Regions from separate parts of the Homo sapiens genome. Here region 1 is linked to region 2. Evidence: fine-mapped expression QTL. Tissue or cell type: pancreas. Region 2 holds a variant in brackets; the other region holds the start of a gene. All regions are shown on one strand. Distances are from middle to middle.

Region 1 (2,615 bases), 27 kb before region 2:
GTTCAGGGTCTCTCTCCCACTTCTAAGAGGGTAGTCTATCTCAGCCGCTGCGGGGTCACCAACAGAGCCTGGACACAGGAGGCATCTGGCAAATACGCGCTGCATGAATCAATGACTCCAGTGCCCACGCGCAAGGGGCCCCTGGGCTCAGAAAACCCCACCAGGCGGGCCCCTCCGAGCTCGGCCTGTCCTGGGGGTGGAGGAGGAAGTTCGCCCCGCGCCTGCCTCGCAACCGCAGCCGCCTCCGTGCGCTTCCTGCCCGCGCCGCCCTCCACACTGCGCTCCGTGTCTGGCAGCAGCCCCCGCCTCGCTGGGCGCGTTCCCGGGGGTCTCGGTGGCGGGAGCCGCCTTCTTGTGGGACTTGGGGGCACGTGGCGCGGGGCGGGGACGCGGACAGACCCCTCCCGCATCCTAGGAGGCCTGGGAGGGTCCGCGGGGACGCGGGGAGGGGGCACCGCCTGGCCGAGGACCCTCCCCCGGTCCTCCCCGCCCCTTCCCCGTCCCTTCCACGCTCGCCGAGGGCAGGACTTCGGTTCCGCGAGACCGGAGGCCCCTCGTCCTCCTCGGAAGCCGCCCGCGGCCGGGGACCCCAGTCCCGCAGAGGAGGGCGGCGCTGCCCCCGCCTCCCGCTTGGAGAGCGCCGCCCGCAGGTGCCCACGGAGGGGCCGCGGCATCCCAGCGCCCTCCCAGGAAGGAGCCGAGCGGATCACCGCCGGCTGCAGCGGAGGTCGGGGCGCCGGGGAGGGGCGCGGCTAGGGGGCGAGGTCGAAGGGCGGGCACCTGCGGGTGGGGCGGGGCCTGAATTAGCGGGAGCGCCCGGGAGGGGCGGGGCCGGGGCCTGCGTGAGCGGGTCGGGGAGGGGGCGGAGCCTGCGGGGGGCGGGGCCTGCGTGAATGGGGCGGGGAGGGGCCGGAGCCTTGTGAGCGGGGCGGGCCGCGTGTGCGGGGTGGGGGCGGAGCCTTATGAGCGGGGCGGGGCAGGGGCGTGGTCGGGGCGGGGCGCGCGGGCGCCCGCGGCGGCCCTCACTTCCTCTGGCGAGCGCAGCCGGGCGGAAGTGCGTCAGTTGTTATCTGTTCGGGGCGCCGCCGCCGCCTCACGAGCCCGGTGCCCAGGAGCCCGGCCGCCTCCCGCCTGCCGCCTGCCGCGCCCGCCCGGCCCCGCCCGCTCGGCCCGATCGCCGCGCCGCGCGCATGGGGCGCGCCCCCGGGGGGGCGGCCGAGGGCCGCTGAGCGCCGGGCCCGCCCCCGCCGATGCGCCCAGCCGCCCGCGCCGGGGGTCCCAGGCCGCGCCGGGCCCGGGGCTGAGCCGCCCCCCGCGCCCGGCATGCCCGGCCCGGCCCGCCGCCCGCCGCCGCCCAGGGCCCGAGCCCGCGCGGCGCACACTCAGCCCGGCGGCGCCGCGTAGCCGAGGGAGCCCGCCTGCTGCGAGCCAGGCGCGGGGCGTCAAGGTCACCGGCCCGACGGGGCGCACGCGCGGCCATGGAGGCCAAGGTCCGCCCGAGCCGGCGCTCGCGCGCGCAGCGGGACCGTGGCCGGCGCCGGGAGGCCGCCCGCGACGCCCGCGCCCAGAGTCCGTCGTCGGGCGACGAGCCCGAGCCCAGCCCCGGCAAGGAGAACGCGGGCCTCCGCGGCGCGCCCCCCCGAGGCGCCGCCCCCGCGCCCCGCACCGCGCGTCCCCCGCGCCGCCGCCGCCGCGAGTCCAGCTCGCAGGAGGAGGAGGTCATCGACGGCTTCGCCATCGCCAGCTTCAGCACCCTGGAGGCCCTGGAGGTAGGTGGACGGGTGCGGCTTCGCAGGCGTTGAGGCGAGAACGGGGCCCGGAGTTGACGCGTCGGGCGATCCCGGGACCCCTGGGCTTGCGACCGCCCGCGCCGTGGGCAGCCCTGAGGGAAGCCCCGGCCACTTGGTACCCGTTCCAGGGACCCTGGGTGCCCACCGCTCGCCCAGACCGTCGCATCTGGAAGACCCAGCAGCGTCGGGTGGGTTTGGGGACGTTTTAAGTTGCAGAGGCAAAAAAATCTACGCTTCGAAATTGGGGGCTGTCTGACAGCACCGTCGGCCTTTTATCAGTTGTGTTTCTGTGGCCAGCATATCGCTCTGCCTGGTTCAGGACGTGCTAGGGAGCAGTGCTGGATCTTAGGGAGGTGGTGATAAAATGGATACTCCGCGGGCCATCCCGTTCCCTCCTCCCTTCGAGGGCTCTGCTGAGAAGGGGAGAAGGAGGGTTAATCTCAAGACCCCTCTTGGTGACTGCTGCCTGCTGCATGGTTAATAGATTGGCCAAAAATATTGCTTGTCTGGCTGACGGACAGTATTTGCTGAGCAAATACTGCTCCTCTTACATGAACTCAGCTGAGCAGAGAAGGAAATTAAATGCTGTCTGAGAGTTGGGGCAGGCGCTGTCTCCCCAGGACTGGCATGGGCAGGAATGCTAGCAAGTTGCCCTGCACCAGGGCCGAGACCCGCCCAGCGAGGTGTGCCCCGTGCAGCACTTACTTTGGGGGACCCTCATCTGCTGGACTTTGACTCCCAGAATCACCCCATTTCCAACCCCTCTCACTTTTCCAGGGGCTTGGGAGCCCATGGCCTGGGATCCCCCAGTCTCAGAAGCTGAGC
Region 2 (2,500 bases):
GAATATTAGGAACAAAAGGGGAAATATCATTACAGGCACTATAGACACGAAAAAGGTGAAATGGGGACAATTTTATTCCAACAAATTCAACAGCTTAGGTGAAGTGGGCAAATTACTTGGAAAACAAAACTGACACAAGATGAAATAGATAATCCGAATAGTCTTTTTTTTTTTTTTTTGAGATGGAGTCTTGCTCTATCACCCAGGCTGGAGTGCAGTGGCACAATGTTGCGCAAGCTCTGCCTCCCGGGTTCAAGCAGTTCTCCTGCCTCAGCTTCCTGAGTAGCTGGGATCACAGGCAAGTGCCACCACGCCCAGCTAATTTTTGTATTTTTAGTAGAGATAGGGTTTCACCATGTTGGCCAGGCTGGTCTTGAACTCCTGACCTCAGGTGATCCACCCACCTCGGCCTCCCAAAGTGCTGGGAACAGGCGTGAACCACCACGCCCGGCTTAGATAATCTGAAGAGTCTTACATCTGTTAGATGGAGTTTCTGGATGTCCACGTTTTCTGTCTTCAGTGCCACCTCCCCCAGCCTGCTCAGCACCCTGTCGCCAGCCTAGCCTAACACTTGAAGTCTTTTCTGATCGTACCAGGCACATTTCCACCAGTTAACATGCATCAGCTTGTTTAACTGCAACCCTGTAACTATTCCCATTTGCCGGATGAGGATGCTGAAGAAAAAAAGCCGCCTGTAAATAACTTGCCCAAGGTTCACACAGTGAGCAGCTGGACCAGGATTCAAGCCCAGCGGCTTGGCTTTGTTGTGGAATCTGTACCCTGGGCCATTACCTGGAGGGCAGCTTTCTGGGCCTCAGTTTTCCTGTCTGTAAAACGGGGATGTTACTAAATAGTTCATTTGTTTTCGGGTTGTTGAGATGATAAAATGAGCTAACATGCAAGGTTTGTACTGTCTACATAGCTGCCATGATGATATCGATTCCTGCTTTTATTATTATGAATTCTCAGAGTAATTTCTCCCGCCTCCTGGGCCCAGCCTGGCTGGTTTGAGGCCCAGACGCTAGAGGCTTATCTTTGTCCCGGTTGCCAGGCAAGGGTCCTCCTGTGCAGGGCCTGTGGAGAGAGGCACTCAGTTAATCAGTGCCTTAGACACTGGGCCTGGGCCTGCCACCTGCAGGGAGCAGCAGGCTGGGTCACAGGGTCCTAGAGCTTCCTCCCACCTGACAGGGCCCTCCTACAAACCAAGAGTTGGTCCAGGGGAAGGGGCCACTCAGGAGGGCTGGGGGCCACGCCGGCCAGGGTGCTGTTAGGTGGGAGTGGAAGAGGAAGGCTGAGCACCTGGGCCTAGCAGGCACTGCTCCCCACAGCCTGGGGCTAGCCGTTCCGGGGCGAGCATGGCCACCTCTGCTTTCCCAGCCTCACTCTGGTCGGGAAGGCTCTTCCGACTGGCATCCATTTTGTACTTTTGGTCATTCCGCCCCTGTTCTGGGCCTGGGGCTGCAGTGACAAACAAGACAAGTGACCGTGCTGCCCT[C/T]GAGAAGTTAAACTATAACTGGGACAACAGCAGAGCGGGTGGAGACTGTTCTGAGTGTGAGCACAGCTGTGCCTGGGAAGGAGAGAAGGCACCGTTAGACCAGGCGGTCAGGGAAGAGCGCTCTGGGTAGAGGGTGTAGCCACCCAGGCCTCTGGTGGCGTGTGCCTGAGGAGCCGAGCGGGCATGGGGTGGGCAGACAGGGCTAAGGAGGGGCCTGGTCTCATACAGAGGGAAACCACTGAGGGTTTTAAGCCAGGGAACAACGTGAGCTCCTGTGTTTTTACAAACTCGTGGGGGAGGCAGCACGGTTGTGGGGGTGGTGGCGCCTGTCGGGAGGCTGCTGCAGCCGTTCAGGAGGGGGTGGCAGTGGCTTGAATTAGGTCATTCTTCTGTTGGACAGGGCGCCAACTGAGCAAGACCAAGTGATGCAGCCCAGGCGGCAAATGTGGTGGAGCCAGGAGTCCAGTGGCCCCAACTCCAGAGCTGGCGGCACACACCTGCTGGAGTCCACTCTGACACAGCATAGCTGCTGTTCCCACCCCTCCTCCGGCACACAGGACTGCACAGGCAGGGCCTTGCAGACACTTACCTGCACTTGCCCACACACACTAGTGTCCCCAAGAGCCTGCTGGCAACGCACTTCCTAGGCCTTAACTCAGCCAGCATCCCTCATATCATCTGTAGTGTATCTCATCCATCCATCCACCCATCTGTCCATCATCCACCTGTCTGTCCATCCATCCACCCATGCATCTACCCATGCATCCATCATCCACCCATCTGTCCATCCAGCCACCCATGCATCTGTCCATCCACCCACGCATTCATCATCCACTCATCTGTAGTGTATCTCATCCATCCATCCACCTGTCTGTCCATCCATCCACCCATGCGTCCATCATCCACCCGTCTGTAGTGTATCTCATCCATCCATCCACCCGTCTGTCCATCCATCCACCCATGTGTCCATCCACCCATCTGTCCATCCATCCACCATGCATGCAT

What was found. PIP is the estimated chance that this variant, and not a neighbour inherited with it, causes the effect.
Region 1: it holds the start of FBRSL1, and the variant in region 2 is fine-mapped to the expression of FBRSL1 in pancreas (GTEx, PIP above 0.99).

Annotation. Positions count from the first base shown.
Region 1 is chr12:132,489,093-132,491,707 of GRCh38, forward strand. It overlaps FBRSL1 (fibrosin like 1), which reads left to right and starts at 1,059. Exons shown (of 19, transcript NM_001367871.1): 1 at 1,059-1,769. The coding sequence starts at 1,479. RefSeq lists enhancers at 20-149, 2,147-2,615 and silencers at 340-409, 540-989.
Region 2 is chr12:132,516,030-132,518,529 of GRCh38, forward strand. The region is part of intron 2 of FBRSL1 (fibrosin like 1); the gene reads left to right. Among named protein-coding and RNA genes, the nearest start is that of FBRSL1, 27 kb to the left of the region's middle. The variant C/T (reference allele first, on the strand shown) is at 1,496.